2 separate regions of the Homo sapiens genome follow, and region 2 is linked to region 1. Evidence: fine-mapped expression QTL. A gene starts in region 1. The other region holds a variant in brackets. All regions are shown on one strand. Distances are between the middles of the regions. Region 1 holds the start of CLEC16A (C-type lectin domain containing 16A). Region 2 has its middle 68 kb from the start of SOCS1.

Region 1 (8,326 bases):
TCACCCCGTTGGTCTCCATTTAAACAGCGTCTGCCTAACAAGGATGTTCCTAACTCCCTGTGCTCCCAAACTAGATGGTGGGAAGGCCTGGAAGAACTTAGACGTGACATAGTGGGAGCCTAGGACCCATAATATGTGGCATGGTGAAGACGATATTTTAAGAAAATCAACATGGCAATATTGTACCCCAAGCTCTAACACTGTCAGTGCCACCTTAGCCAAAACTTGAAAGCACCAAGAGTAGGTGTGCGTCTGTCTACCTGCCATGGATCCATTCTCCGCCTTCTTTGGGCAATAACCCCTGATTCTCCCATGGGGAACCACTCTTTTCTCTCATTCTTTTCCACTAGCTTGAGTGGAGCTAATCCCACTCTTGCTCCAGGGAAGGGAATATGAGTGAGGAATGGCCAATCAGATCCCCCTATACCTTTGGCCAGAGTGACAGTTCAGGGGTGGCATGAGACCTTGCTGGTCCAGGGATACTCAATCTCAATTCTGGACTTCTGCTGGCAATATTGAGAAAAGAAGCTCTCTTTTTCCTCAGGAATGCTAAGCTGATATGATGTAAGCCTGCAGCCTGCCTGAAAATGACACCAACAGGAAAAAGGTAGAGCTGAAAGGTGGAAAAAGGCCGATTTCTGACGGCTCCAAACACCTGGATTCAGCCATGGTTTAGCGGGGACAGACCATTCAGTGACATGAGCTATTCAATCCATTTGAGGCTTAAGGCAATTCTAGCTGGGTTTCTGTCACTGGAACCAAAAATCTTGACCCCCACACAAAGTGGACCAGAATGAAGGCCACAATACAAAAACGACCAATTTCTACCAGCCGCAGACTTGCAGTCCCTGGTAAAGATGATGTTTCAGTAGCAATCAAACGATTCCATCACTCAGGCTTCCGCTTGGTGGTGGACATTTGTCAGTCAATGTCACAGCCTTGCCACTAATCTGGACAATAAACCACCCATGGTGTGTAGCAAATAACCTCTTGACTACTTCAATCTGCCTGAGCTAAATCACTAACTCAGTTCAGCAGACAGAGACCACAGGTATGAAGTTTTCTACCATTTAGCAAAAGTAAAACCCTAACAGGAAAATTCCTTTCCAGTTTGCAAGCTGGGAGTGTTACAAAGAATAATGAAGCTAAAAACAGTTTCCAGCTCTCTGTGCTATCTTCTCAACCTTTCTGTAAATCTCAAACTGTTCTAAAAAAGTAAAGTCTAGGCCGGGTGCAGTGGCTCATGCCTGTAATCCCAGCACTTTGGGAGGTCAAGGAGGGCAGATCACAAGGTCAGGAGATCGAGACCATCCTGGCTAACACGGTGAAACCCCGTCTCTACTAAAAATACAAAAAATTAGCTGGGCGTGGTGGCGGGCGCCTGTAGTCCCAGCTACTCTGGAGGCTGAGGCAGGAGAATGGCGTGAACCCGGGAGGCGGAGCTTGCAGTGAGCCAAGATCGTGCCACTGCACTCCAGCCTGGGCAACAGAGCAAGACTCTTATCTCAAAAAAAAAAAGAAGAGGGTTTCCAGATGCCTTGTGTATTTAAAAAATAATAATAATAAATAAATAATTCTTTTAACTATCTTAAACTTTCCCTCTCCATCCATACTGCTCTAGGTCAAGGTAAGAGTGTATTAAGAACTGTCACTTGTCACTGGTAGGGTGACCAGTTTATACTAGTTTGTCCAGGACTTTCCCAGTTTTAGCACTGAAAGTCCCATATCCTGGGAAACCCCTCAGCCCAGGCAAACCAGGACGGTTGGTCACCCGAAGTGTCAGATAAATCCCAAGCCCCTTCCTACTTCCAGCCTTGTTTCCCACAGCTATCAGCCCCCACCTGGACATGCCACAAAACCCGCAGGGTCCTGGTCACAGTGCTCCGCCTCCCGCCCCTGCTGCCCGCCAATGGTGGCTTCTGTTCATTCTTGGAGAACCCGCGCTGGTGTTGTCTCCTCCAGAAAGCTCCCAATAAGGGTTCCCACAGAACCCTGGGTCCATGGCGATCTCAGCACTTATCACACTGTACAGTCACTGGCTCTACAGCTGTCTCCCCCACCAGCCTGCAAACTCCCTCAGGGAACGAGCTGTTCTGTACCCAAGACCCAAGATGTTTACCAACAGAGCCAAATGCAGAGTGGCACAAGCCCCAGGGTGGGCACTGGCTGTTTACAAAACTCTTTTCCAAGTCACTGGGGGATCTTCTAACCCCCCCACCAATACACAAATCTCAGGTTCTTGGGGCTGTAATATGGATTAAGCTGATCTGCCTGATTCAGGGCAGGCAACTTGGGTTTCCAAAGAAGCATCCGATAGACATGTGATCTAAACAATGAACCCAGGCAGTTCCCAGGATACTGCAAAGGAACCAGAGACCGTTTACCATTCCCTGCTGGCTGGCAAAGATGCCCCATTGGCGATGAGACTCAGCCAAGTCAAAAGTGTTCTCAAACAGACTTATTGGGAAGTTTTATTCAGAAAGACAGTATAATGAGCACAAGCTCGGGAGTCAAATCCTGCCTCTGGTACCCTTCAGCTGCTGACACCTGGGGGCAAGTCACTGAAGCCCCCTGAACCTTAGTTTCCACTTCCGTAAAATGGAAACAATAATGGTTCCTGTAACTCAGACTTGTGAGGACTAAGGGAATTAACACACAGGCAGTCCTTAGCAAATACCTGGTACAGAATAATGCATTCGATAAATTAATAAATTAAGGTAATTTAAAAGGGCTAGAGTTAAGCAGAGTTAGGTGAGAACCTGGAGGTACCTGGATGCCGGCAGGAGGCCCAACCTCCTCTGGATAACTCCCCTCCCCTCCTCAGCCACCTCCGCCCACTCGATAAATTCCTGAAATCCTTCAACCACTCCCTTTCCCGGCCAGCTGCCCTCCCATCTAAGATCCCCACCTCCCTACCCACCCCAGACTTGTCCTGGGCCTCTTTCCTCCCCTTGTCTTCTCTCACCACCTCCTGCTCTAAAAGTGCCCCTCACCACATAGTGAACCCTCCTGCTCCCCACTCTTCAAGACTCACAAACGTTTACTAAATGCTGCTCCATGCTAGAAAGGTCACAGCTGAGAACTGTGGCCCTGCCACTACCCCTACCCCACTCCCGGGGACACATGAGAAGTCCCTATCTAATTCCCTCCCACCAATCCTTTCCACAGCCCCGTCTCCCTTCCACTACTTCCCACCATATCCCTAACCCTATCTTCCTCCTTTCCCATTAGTAGTCTCAGGATCTCCTTCTGGAAACCTGCCTATTTCTTGACACTGAAGATTTGTCTACTCCCCTCTTCAGCATCCCCGCCATTTCCCTCCCTAAAGCCTTTCCCTTCATACAGATCTCTATTTTTCATCATCCTCCACACCTGCCCCCAAATCCTGGGTCCTGGCCTGCATGCTCTTCATCTCTCCCCAATTCAATCATTCATTTTTCCACTCTTTAAGTAAGCAGAGAGCAGTCCTAGATGCTGGGAATACAACTGTGAACAAACCAAGCAGTCTGTGCCCTCGTGAAGTGCCAGTTTAACAGAAGACAGAAAATAAGTATAAATAAAAAATAAAGAATAATCGCAGAGAGTGGAGAAGCACTCAATGAAAGCAAGAGAAAGATGTGATGGATAGGAACTGGGATGGGGGGAGCACGTTAGGTAGGGTGGTCTGGGAAGGCCTCGCTGAGCTGATAATAAACACAGCTACCACTACTGGCCACCTACTATGTACCTACTGGGTCAGTCACCTTCCATTTCCATTACAATGTTCACGATCCCCATTTGCAAATGGGAATCTGGAGGCTCAGAGAGGTGAAGTAATTTGCCCAAGGTCACACAGCCAGTAAATGGTGGTTTCAGGATTTGAACGCAGGTGTGGCTGCAAAGCCAGCCTCTTAATTTCTGCACTCCTGGTCCCAAGACCCTATCTGCCACCTGTCCTCCCCCAGAGCTGTAGAGTCATTCCCTCCTCAGAGGTCTCTATTTTTCATCATCCTCCCCAATCGCCCCAAAATCCTGGGTCTCAGCGTGCATGCCCCCAGCTTAGACTCCCCTCGGAAAATAATCTGTTCTTTTATAATAATTAATGCCGTTTAATGAGCAATTGTACGTGTTCTGAGCTTAACGTTCATTCTCTTATCCAACCAACTCTCAACACAATAGCAGGAAGCAGGTGCTGTCACTCTACTCTTTTTACAAGTGGGGAACCTGAGGCCTACATTCACACAGATAGATTCGGACCCAGATCTGCCCGACTCCAGGACCCAGGCCTTTGACCCTCTAAGCTGTTCAGTTTAAGAAGTACCCCGCCAGGAAACTTGGTGGACACCGTCAAGAACAAAGTCTGTGTCCATAAACTGAAATCGCATCCTCTCGCTTTACAGGTGGGGATACGGAGACTCTGAGAAATTAAGCGACTTGTCCAAGGTCACACAGCCAAGAGCGACGGGGTCAGGGTTCGAACCCAGGCGCCCTGACTCCCGAGCCCTCGCTCTTAACCACCACACGGGCTTCCCCGGGCGCCCTTCGCCGCCGCTCTCACGCCTCCTAGAGCCCCGACCCGGAGCTCGGCGCCCCGTCCCCCTGTCCAGCCCCGAGGCCTCCCGCTACGCCCCCCACACTCACTTGAGGTGGTCCAAGGAGTGGATGTTGCGGGAAGTCTTGCCATGGCCCCCGCCCACCCAGCTCCGCGAGCGGCCAAACATGTCGGCGGCCCCGACCCGTCTCTCGTCTCACGGTCTCATGCCGGACCAGCAGAGCGGCCCAGCGCCCGCGGCGGTAGCACAAGCGGAGGATGCGGCGGCGGAGGCGGTGGAGGAACCGCGAGCCGCCTTCCTCCCCGGCCCACAGCCCAGCACTGACATTCAGCCGGAACCGGCCGTTCGACCGCCGCGCTTTACGGCCGCCGCCGCGTGGGGCGCTGGGAAATGCAGTTCACCCGCGTGGCCTTCGGCGGCAGGACTCCGCGAACGGACTACAAGGCCCGGCATGCATCGTGCAACCGCGGGCCTACGGCCATCCACAAAAGGCGGGGCGAGAGGAGGAGCGACCGCAGAATCCTCCGGGTGGGCGGGAATTGGAAGCTTTGGGCGCAGTCCCGGAGAGGGAATCGGCGTAGATGGGTCAAGGAAAGTCACCACTGTAGTAACAATTACTAGATTTATAATAAGAATAAGAATAGTATTGGATGGTGTATACTATGCAAAGCCACTATCCTAAGGGCTTTACATATTAAGGTATTTAATTTTCACAACCATCCTATGAATTGGGTACTATTATCGAACCTATTTTATCATCAGGGAAACGGAGTCACTGAGAGGTTGACTTACCCAAGATCATGCAGTTAACAAGTGGCAAAACCAGGGTTCATAACCACGCACGCACCCTTATTTTTCATTCCCTTTATAAACCAAAACGGCACTAGATAACAACCTTATTTGTCCTGACAGCCTTTTTCTTTTTCCACTTCAATTAAGTGTGTGTGTGTGTGTGTGTGTGTGTGTGTGTGTGTGTGTGTGTGTGTGTGTGTGTTGGAAAAGGCTGGATGCAACAATGCACCAAACTGAACATTTTGTACTTCCAGAGGATTCCTCTGGTCTTCAGCCAGAATCCATGCTATTTCCCAAAGTACCACGTTAAAATGAAAAAGGAAACACCCAACTTTCTGCATGAGCCAGAATATATCTAACTTCTACCCTGGATTAGAAGTGGTAAGTTCAGTGTGGGCAAGACTTCTCAAGTTTACCATCCATTCATTCATTCAGTCACTTCTACATATCAACCTTATTAAAGGTCCACTGTGTCCCATTAACTCTGCTCAAGAAAGAACTGGGCCAGAGGCCAATGTTCTCCCCAGTGCCTAGCACAAGGTTTGGCACATAGCAGGTGTTTAACAAATATTGGTAGAGTGCATGAATGAGTAAAGGTTTGTTTCACCTTCAGCAGTTGGAGAAATGGATAAGAGTGGAGAGTTAATGGTTTGTCCTGTAATTCATATAGAGTGGGGCAAGACAAAGTCATGGAGCAAAAAAGAACAGGATCTGGCCTCCAAAGAAACACACCCAGGCTCAGAAATGTAGGATCCCTGGGCTCGTATTTTTCATCTGTAAAAAGTACGCACATACATACTACACTGCCTTGTATACCTCCGATTAAGCGATGCATGTAAAATACTCAGCTCAGTGTGGCCTGAGATTTAAAGGTTTCTTGAACTGCTTTGGAAGGCTCTTTGGGCGAGATCATGTTTTCCTGAAAGACATGCAACGGTTACCCAAGAGCAGGGGAACCAGTGGGTGGGAGAGACTCACTTTTCTGTGTACTTCACGGTTGTTTGAATGTTTAGCCATGTGTATTATTGCTTTTAAACATGATTCACAAAGTAAAAAGAAACAAAAAGCATCCTTATGGTTGAAGATCTGAACTACCTCGGAATCTCTTTATTCAGGTGTTCCTTAACTCTAGGATGCAGGTTCCGTAGTGGGCGGACCTTCCAGCAACCAGAGTTTGGAGAAGCGAAGGGGACACTGGTGGATCTCCACCATGAAAATTGGCGCTTTGGGAATGTCCAAAATTTCCAGGGCAACCGTCCGTCGCCCCTCCCCGACCCCGCCTCCTTTTAAAGGAGAAACGGAGTCCCAAAGAGGCATGCAGCAAGGTGCAGCGGTAGCCCGGGTTTCCTTCGGCTTTTGCGGCCTTAGCATTATGTCTAGGTTTGAACTGTGTTCAGTCTCTTTTACCTCCCCCTATTCGATACGCAGAGCGAATTCGATTTGAGATCTGAGGGCAGACCCGAACCAGGAAAGCAACTCAGACGCTAGGGCCCCGAGGGGCGGAGCGAAGCGGTACCCGCCCCCTGGCGGCCGGAGCCAATCAGCGCGGGCGTTGAGCCGGCCAATTAGCGCGTGCAGGGGGCGGCCTGCCAATGAGCTCGGGGCCCCTCGGGAGGCGGAGCTCCGAGCGCCACCGGGAGGGCTACGCGGCGGCCGCAGCCATGGGTGCTGGGCCTGCGGGGGCGCGGGGGGTGCGCGAGGACCTGCGGGGCGGGGCGGGAGAGAAGGCTGCCGGGACCGGCCCTAGACACTGAGCCGCGGTGGGATCCCCACCGGCTCTGCGAGGCCCTGCGAGCGCCAGGGAGGCGCCACGAGGGAGCCGGGCAGCCGCGGGCCACTTCAGGGGGGCCCGCCTCGCCGCCCGGGCGGTCGAGAGATCCTTGGGGGCACATCTCGGGGTGCGGTGACCCGCCCGGCGCATTTCGGGGGTCGGGGCGCAATTGCCAGGGGACATCTGGAGCCCGGCCCTGCTTCTGTCGGGCTCCAGGGTACCCCTGGATGGCTGCGCTGTGCCCTCGCCGGCCGCCCGGGCGCCGCAGCGGCTGAGTTCGCCGGGATCGCCGGGCCGCCGCCCTTGCCACCCGCTGCATGCTCGGCGCCCGGGTCGCGGCCCACCTGGACGCACTGGGCCCCCTGGTCCCCTACGTGCCGCCGCCGCTGCTGCCCTCTATGTTCTACGTGGGCCTGTTCTTCGTCAATGTGCTGATCCTGTACTACGCCTTCCTCATGGAGTACATCGTCCTCAACGTGGGCCTCGTCTTCCTGCCCGAGGACATGGACCAGGCGCTCGTGGACCTCGGCGTGCTCTCCGACCCCGGCTCGGGCCTTTACGATGCTGACTCGGAGCTCGACGTCTTTGATGCGTACTTGGAGTAGGGTCTCGACTGCTGTTCCCCTCTTCCCTACACGATCCGCAACCCATGCCCTGGACCAGCCGCCCAGATCATGCCGCCGCAGCTGGTTGGGGGCACCATCTGGACGGGGATGGTTCCCCAGGAGGAGACCCTCCCCTGCCTCCGAGGCCTGTAAGTGCCCTCTCTGAACAGGATGAGGGCGGGTTGGGGCGCTAGCAAGGGAGAGGGAGGAATTCCCAGGCCGGATACACACCCCTCCCTCAGGCTTCTCCTCCGTTCACCTCCTCCAGGTCTAACTGGATGCCAGGAATGGCCAGACTCCTCTTAAGCCCTTCGTTTGGGCTGGAAAGCTTCCTCCAGCAAAGGGGACAGCTGGTGAAAAGGAAGGAGACCCCGAGACTAAGTTACATTTGGGGTAGCTCTGTGACTTACCCCCAAAGCTTATGGAAAAAGCCTTCGCTCCCAAATCCATTTGAGGCAGAGCTGTCAGCTCCTCCTCCAGTCCTCATCCTGGCTTGATGATGACCTTGGCTTTTGGGGGATTCTCGCTTGTCCTAGAAGGATAAAGATTTAGGGGTGTCAGAAGACACAGGGAGCCAGGCACGAATCACCTTTGTACTGTGGCCCTTGGGGTAGCTGGGTGGGGAT
Region 2 (8,326 bases), 240 kb before region 1:
CCTCCTGGTTTAAAACGGTAGCTCCTTTCTTCCCCTTACTGGCCTGCTGATCCCCCTTCCTTGGCTGTATTTTTATAGAATTTACCTATTTTTAATTTTCTTTGTTGCCTATGTCCCCTGCTGGGAGGTCCTTCCCTCCCTTGTCTGAGTCATTTACTGCTGCCTCCCTAGTGACCTGTACAGTGTCTGGTACACAGTATGTGCTCAGTCAACGTTTTTTGTTTGTTTGTTTTTTGTTTTTTTAGACAAAGTGCCACTCTATCACCCAAGCTGGAGTGCAGTGACATGATCTCAGCTCACTGCAACCTCCGTCTCCTGTGTTCAGGCGATTCTCATGCCTCAGCCACCTGAGTAGTTGGGACTACAGGCGCATGCCACCACACCCAGCTATTTTTTGTATTTTTAGTAGAGATGGGGTTTCGCCATGTTGGTCAGGCTGGTCTCAAACTCCTGGGCTCAAGTGATTCTCCCACCTCAGACTCCCAAAAGTGCTGGGATTACAGATGTGAGCCACTGTGCCCAGCTAAGTTTTGCTGGATCAATGTTCAAGTCCTGGGAGAAGCCAAGCCTTCCCTCTCCACCTGCTGAAGCCTCCTGGGGAGGGGCCCGAGGATGGGGCTTTCTAGTTCCCACCTCTCATGACAGATGCCATCAAGGCCCAGGCAGACGGTGCGCTGCGCCAATGGATTTTGGCAGCAGTTACTCTGAAAAGGGCTGTTCCCGCTTGGGCAGATTGGCAGGAAAAGCCCCAAGTCAATAAGGGGTGGGAGATAAGCATGTTCGAGAGAAGCCACTGAGATTGGGTGGGCTCCAGGCTGTTCCTGTGAATCTGCAGGGCAACCCAAGGTGGGGGCGGGGTGGGGCAGGTGCCCTGCTGTGGCACCTGGAGCTGGCACAAGGCCTGCTCTGGCCCTGGTCACGGTGTGGGGTGGGGGCTCCTTCTGTCTTTGGCTGCCTGTATCTGCTCTGTGAGAGGCAAAGGATGCCAGGCCCAGGGCACTGGACCAGGCTCGTGGACTCCTGCTCAAGGCACTGCCGACTTCAGATTTTAGGTCCAAGTCCCAGGGGGGACTTCGCTTCTCAGCCAAGTGGCCCTGGTTCAAGGGTCCGCCATCTGTAACATGGGGATAATAATAGTCCCAGCGCAGCAAGGTTATTGGGAGTATGAACTCCGATTAGGCTTAGAAACTGCTTAGCTAAGCCTGGCCTGGAGGAAGTGCCCATTAAGTGGGAGTTTTTGCTGCTATTTTAGCTGCAGCAACACTGCCTCATAGCTGTGTGACTCAGGATCAGTCACTCAGCCTCCCTGGTCTGGGTCTCAGTTGCTGTTCTGTAAAAGAAGATGATACTACTAGAAGGCTTCCCACCATCTACAAGAGACTCAAAATATGCAGGCTGATTGAGGCTGGGAAGCTGCTGGGGGCCTCACCTGGATCAGAGGAGACTCCAGCCCTGGAACGTCAGACCTCCAGCTGGGATGGACTAGGGACAAGTGGAGGGAGGGGGGCCGCTGGCTGTGGGAATGTCGAGGATGGAGAGGGGAAATCTGAGGAGGCTTCTCAGAGGAGGTGAACTCTGAGCTGGGCTGTAAATCGGGAAAGATTTAAAATGTACAACATTTGGCGGTGGGGAGGCTGTGGTGAGATGGGCACTTGTGTACATCGCTGGTGAGAGTGTCAGTGGTCCAATATTTTTGGAAAGCAATCTGGCAATTTGTAGCCAGAGTCTTAAGATGGTTTACCTTTCTATGATCTAGTAATTCCCATGCTCAGGACCTCTTCTGGGGAGGTAATATAAAATGTGGATAGACCATGAGGGTGCACAGCTAGCCACAGGGATACATTCCCTGCAGCAGAACTTGTTACACACTTTAGAAATGGAGTTTCCATGGCCAGACTCAGTGGCTCGCACCTGTAATCCCAGCACTTTGGGAGGCTGAGGTGGGCAAATTGCTTGAGCCCAGGAGTTTGAGATGAGGCAGGGCAACATGGGGAAAACCCATCTCTACTAAAAATACAAAAATTAGCCGGGCATGTTGGTGCATGCCTGTAATCCCAGCTACTCAGGACACCGAGGCAGGAGAATTGCCTGAACCCGGGAGGCAGAGGTTGCGGTGAGCTGAGATGGCACCACTGCACTCCTGCCTAGGCAACAGCATGAGACTCCATCTCAAAAAAAAAAAAAAAAAATGGAGTTTCCAGGATCGTGGAGAAATGATGAACCATATCATGTCACGCTGGGTCAAAAGCATGACATGAAATGACACCCACTGTGTTATTTCAATTCTAAAATGCATAGAAAAAAGACCAGAAAGAAATCTGCCAGGATGTCCACAAGGGTTGTCCTTTAATGGTGAGATTATGGGAAATACTGTTGTTCTAGACTTTGCCAAATTGCCAGGAGAGCTGTGCAGTCCTTTTGGCAACCAGTTGCAGCAACACAGCAAAAGAGAAAAATGAAACCCGGCAAAGGAAGAGGTGACGGCAGCTCAGGTAGACACCGGGCACACGGATGGTTTGTTTGGACACTTGTTGAGCCGCCGGCCTGGCCAGAGACCAAGAGCTGTCCTTTACCCGTCCTCTCCCTTGTGGCCAGTCCGACCAAACCTGTCAATTTTACCTGCTGAACATGTTGCAGGTCACCCACTTCAGCTGTGACCTGTCCCCACTGCCATGGGCTCCTCTTGATCACTCGTCACCTGCAGCTCCGGCCATCTTCTTGCCAGCCACATCCAGCCAGGCGGTTTTTTTTGTGTAAAACACTTCAGTGTGTGCCATTGCCATTGGTCCCTCGGCCAAGCTCTCCAGTGTAGCTTTGAAGGCCTCTGGGGGCTGCCCAGGCAGGCCCTCTGGGTATGGCACCGTCACGCTGCGTTCCTGCCTTTCTAGCTGGCTTCTTTACCATCTTCCATCTACGCCACGCCCAGCCTGGCCCGGGAGCTAGTGCTGCAGAGTGGAGCCAAAGAACAAACACGGGGATTGAATGAACAAGCGGAGTGGTTCCTACCATCCGCTGGGGCATGCAAATGGGGAGAGGGAACCCAGGGAGCGACCCATTTTCCAGATGAGGAAATGGAGGCCTAAGAAGTTAGTTTCTGTGCCCTGTGTGCAGATGCCACAGCTGGGAAGTCATGGTCTGCCTGTCTGTTGTTAGATCCTGTCCTTTGTGAGGGCAATGGCTGTGTTCAGGTCACCTCTGTGTCCCCAGGATGCAGCCCAAGCAGGCACACAGGCGGAGGTGGAATGAGAGAGTGAGGAGGCCCTGGGTCTCGGCCCATAGGGCAGCAACTTGAATATTTTTAGCTGCCTTCTTGGGGAGGGGACATGCGGGTAGCAGCGGAGAGTGCTCAGGAGGGTGGCCTCAGTTTACCCACAGGGGCTGGGCTAATCAAATATTGAGCTCCCTGCACCTGACCCAGGGGTTCGGAAGGGCTACTGGAGGTGAAGGGGTCAGGGTAAGGAGAAAATACTGTACCAGCCACCGATCACCAGTCTGCCCCTAGGCCCAGGTGTTGGGGGAGCTGACAGGGTGGGGAGCCCACACCTGCCAAAGACTGGTCCGTACTTCTATCCAGGTGGACAAGGGCCCAAGATCCTCACATGTGATTTTTAAAGAGAAGCCAGGAATCCAGGTATTTGTACCAGATCCCCGACGTTTAAAATCTTGGCTCAATGGTTCTTTTAAAAGCCTTTGATGGCCAAACGGAACACACAGAGGGGCTGCACTGGACCCAGGGGCTGCCCATTTGTAACCTCTGGTTTGGGGGGTGTGGCTACTGTGTTTGGGGTCTGGTAGCGCCTCCCTGCATCCACTCCAGGTCCCCAGGCCCCCACCAGTCTTCCAGCCCATGTGCCTGTTGAGTCTCCAATTTTCTGTCCAAATGAGGAGCTCACTCAGGAGCCATCTCGGCTCCAGGCGAGGCAGCTGGGAGGAAGCAGGACCTTCATGGCATGGGACAGTCCTCAGCCAACAGGGCATGAGAGTTGGGGGATAAATGCCTGACCTCCTGCCCCTCCCAGGACCAGTCCCAAGGCTCATCTATGCAGCTCTGCAGAGGGGCTCCAGAGAGGCTGAGTATCAAGTGCCCCCAGCAGTGTCTGGCGGTGACCAGGCCAGCTGTGCCCTGTCTACTGGCCTCCTGCCCTTCTCTCCCAGCTCCCACTCCAGCTTCCTGGGGCCACTACCCAAATAAACCAGCAGCACTGTGTCCTCCTTTCAGGCCTCTGATGTCAGGGGTTCCCCAAACGAAAGCCATGAGATTTTGCTCATGGCAAAGAAACAAAAATCCTTTGAGGTGTGACAAACGCCAGGAAAGAAATGGGTGGCAGCTGCTGATGGAGGAAAGCAGGGGTCTGACGTCAGAATAGTCCCTGGAAGTAACACTGATTCTGTGGACGGAGGATAACGACAGAGGATGGGTGCAGGTGCAGAGGTTGGGGAGGGGGCTGGAGGGAGGAAAGGCAGGTGCCAAGGTCCTGGGAGGGGAATCAGTTGAGGGGTCTTCCAGGACAGGGCAGAGGGCTTGTGTGCTCCAAGTGGTGGGGTGTAGCCAGGGTGGGCTGCAGAGGTGGGCCAGGCTGGCTTCTTATTTTGGGTGCTGTATCAGTCAGGATTCTTCAGAGAAACAGAACCAACAGGAGATACAGATAGGTAGGTAGATAGGTAGGCAGGTATAGATATATAGATTTATAGGCTGGGCACTGCGGTTCATGCCTGTAATCCCAGCACTTTGGGAGCCTGAGGCAGGATAATCACTTTAGGCCAGGAGTTCAAGATCAGCCTGGGCAACATAGTGAGACAAAAAAAACTAAATTACCAAGTGTGCTGGCGCACGCCCGTAGTCCCAGATGCTC[C/G]GGAGGCTGAGGCGGCAGGATCGCTTGAGCCTGGGAGTTCGAGGCTGCAGTGAGCTTTGATGGCAACACTGCACTCCAGCCTCGGTGACAGAGTGAGACCCTGTTTCTAAAATAAAATTAAATTAAAAATGAGATTTACAGATGCCCCTCAATTTACAATGAGGCTACATCCCAATAAACACATCCTAAGTTGAAAACAACTTTAGTACCTCGATAAACCTGTCATAAGGTTGAAAAATTGTCAGTTGAACCCTTATAAGTTGGGGGCCGTCTGTATTATGGGAATTGGCTCATGCAATTCTGGAGGCCAAGGGGTCCTAGAATCTGCCGTCTGCAAGCTGGGAGGCCCAGGAAAGCCAGTGTCGTTCCAGTCCAAGCTGGAAGGCCCGAGAGCCAGGGCCTCTGATGTCCAAGGGCAGGCGAAGATGGACATACGGGATCAAGCAGAAAGCAAATTTTACCTTTTTCCTCCTTGTTTTATTTGGGCCCTCAATGGATTGAATGGTGGCCGCCCACAGTGGTGAGGGTGATCTTCTTCACTCAGTCTACTCTTTCAAATGCTACTCTCTCCCCCAGCCCCCACTTTTTTTTTTGAGATAGGGTCTCACTCTGTCACCCAGGCTGGAGTGCAGTGGCCAATCTCGGCTCACTGCAGTGGCCAATCTCGGCTCACTGCAGACCTCTGCCTCCTGGGTTCAAGCGATTCTCATGTCTCAGCCTCCTGAGTAGCTGGGACTACAGGTGCCCACCACCACGCCCAGCTAATTTTTGTATTTTCGGTAGAGACAGGATTTCACCGTGTTGGTCAGGTTGGTCTCGAACTCCCGACCTCAAGTGATCCACCCACCACAGCCTCCCAAAGTGCTGGGATTACAGGCATGAGCCACCTCACCCTACTGCAAATTCTACTTTCTTGCAGAAACACCCTCCCAGTCACACTTGGAAATCATGTCATGCCGCTATCTGGGCACCCCTTAGCCCAGTCAGGCTGACACATAAACTGAATCATCACAGCTGCCTCTGAGGATCAGCTGGGGACCTTAAAAAATTCCAGGGCTCAGCTGTACCCCACAGGTGCTGGCTTTGTACCTCAGGGGGTACATGTAACTGAGGGGGCCTGGGCCTGGGCTGAAGCCTGTTTTTCTGGCTGGGCCGCTGGTGAGACCCCCTGGCTGAAATTGCATGTGCCAGGCTGGGTACAGGTGCTTGATTTACCTGCCCCCACTTCATCTACACAAGCAAGGACACTGCCAGAAAGGTTCCCATTTTACAGATGAGGAAATTGAGCCTCATGCGGTTTCACCATGTACTCAAGGCCACAGGGATGGGGAGCATTGGTGCAGGGACTTGAACCTCGTCAGCAACTCCAAAGCCTGCACTGCCACCTACTCCACCCTGCTTGAGGTCTCGCTCATCACTGAGATACCAGCAGCAGCTCGGTCTCAGCTCAGATACCTGTGGAGGGTTGGGGGACACAGAATTTCTGATGGTGGCAGAGGAAAGCCCTCAAACACTCCTACCCTTGGCAACCTGGCCCGGGCAAATTCTCCTGAAGATCTTTGGCTGGCCCTGGTAAGGCCTGGAAGACACCAGAGTGAGCACACATAGGGAGAGGCTGAAAGTTAGGGCCATGGGCATGGAGAACTGAATGGAATTCAGGCTTTAAGAATCTGGAACTGTATCCAAGAATGACTCCATCCATCAGTCCATCCATCCATCCAACATACATGCACAGAGAGCTCATGGGCCAGAGCCTGCACCCAGCTCCCACAGAACAGGTGAAAATAAAACACAGTCGTTGCCTGTGGGTGAGTCTATTGGAGAGGGAGAACTGAAATAAGAATTGCAAGGCTGGGCGCTGTGACTCACGCCTCTTGTCTTAGTGCTTTGGGAGGCTGAGGCAGGAGGACTGTTTGAGCCTAGAAGTTTGAGATCAGCCTGCACAAGTGAGACCTTCTCGCAATGAAAAAATTAATAAATTAACCAGGAGCGGCAGCATGTGCCTGTGGTCCCAGCTCTCTGGGAGGCTGAGGAAGGAGGATCGTCTGAGTCCAGGAGGTTGAAGCTGCAGTAAACTATGACCGCCCCACTGCTCTCCAGCCTTGGTGACAGAGCTTGACCCTGTCTCCAAAAAAAAAAAAAAAAGAATTCCACAGTTCGCAACACACTGTGATATGTGTGTGTCATAGTGGCATCTCTGATCTGGGATGACATTTAGGGGTACAAGGACTCAGACTTAAATACCCTAGTCCCAGAGTGAGCTGGTTCTTTTCTTCTGTCAGCATTTTTTTTTTTTTTTTTTTTGAGACAGGGTCTCACTCTGTTGCCCAAGCTGGTGTGCAATGGTGCAATCTCAGCTCACTGCAACCTCCACCTCCTGGGTTCAAGCGATTTTCCTGTTTCAGCCTCCTGAGTAGCTGGGACCACAGGCCTGGTTAATTTTTGTATTTTTAGTAGAGACGGGGTTTCACCGTGTTGGCCAGGCTGGTGTCGAACTCCTGACTTCAAGTGATCTGCCCACCTTAGCCTCCCAAAGTGCTGGGGTTATAGGCATGAGCCACCATGCCCGGCGTTTTAGCTCTTCTGATCCTATCACTGAGAAAATCTTGGTTAGGCGCCAATAGGCCTCCCCTATTAATGGCACAGGCAAGGCTGGGCCCAGAGCCTGTGGCAGGTGCTAGGACCTGGCTAAAAATTTAATGATATGGATTTGCTTGTGCTGCATTTGTTTTTATATCTTTAATTTCTGGCAAGGGTAATGGGTTGAATGGTGAGCCCTTCTAAAAAGGTGTCCATGTCCTGAATCTGGTCCCTGTGAATGTGACGTTATTTGGAAATAGGGTTTTTGCAGAGGAAATGAAGGATCTTGAGTTAAGACCACCGTCGATCAGGGCGGGCCCTAAATCCAATGACTGCTGTCCTTTCAAGAGAAAGGAGAGGGGGATTTGACACAGACACGGGGAAGAAGGTGCTGTGGGGAGAGGCAGGGACTGGAGTGATTCACTCATGGGGCGAGGAACGCCAAGTGCCGGAGCCACCGGAGCTGGGAGAGAGGCAGGAGGCAGCTTCTCCCTCTAAGCCTCCAGGAGGAGCAGCCCTGCTGGCAACTTGATTTTAGACTGGCCTGCAGAACTGTGGGAGAGTAAATATCTACTGTTTTAAGCTGCCCTGTTTGTGATCATTTGTCATGGCGGCCCTAGGAAATGAATGCTGCAGTGGTGCTGGTTTTCTGTTTCCAGCGAAAAGTCTTCCTCTTAAAAAAATTGAATTTAAAGGGCAAACCAAGAGTCAAGGAAGCAAAGCCAGGTGTGGTGGCACTTGCCTGTAGGCCCAGCTACTCAGGAGACTGAGTTGGGAGGTTTGCTTGAGTCTGGGAGATGTAGGCTGCAGCGAGCTGGGACCACACCAGTGCACTCCGGCCTGAGCAACATAGCAAGACCCCGTCTCAAAAAAAAAAAAAAAAAAAAAAGGGC

The links. PIP is the estimated chance that this variant, and not a neighbour inherited with it, causes the effect.
Region 2: its variant is fine-mapped to the expression of CLEC16A in whole blood (TOPMed, PIP above 0.99).

What each region holds. Positions count from the first base shown.
Region 1 is chr16:10,941,092-10,949,417 of GRCh38, reverse strand. It overlaps CLEC16A (C-type lectin domain containing 16A), which reads right to left and starts at 4,854. Exons shown (of 24, transcript NM_015226.3): 1 at 4,621-4,854. The coding sequence starts at 4,700. It overlaps DEXI (Dexi homolog), which reads left to right and starts at 6,950. Exons shown (of 2, transcript NM_014015.4): 1 at 6,950-7,849. The coding sequence starts at 7,413. The coding sequence ends at 7,700. It also overlaps a transcript of CIITA not described here. RefSeq lists enhancers at 4,782-4,841, 5,062-5,241 and a silencer at 6,811-7,360.
Region 2 is chr16:11,183,739-11,192,064 of GRCh38, reverse strand. No RefSeq gene overlaps it. Among named protein-coding and RNA genes, the nearest start is that of SOCS1, 68 kb to the left of the region's middle. The variant C/G (reference allele first, on the strand shown) is at 4,854.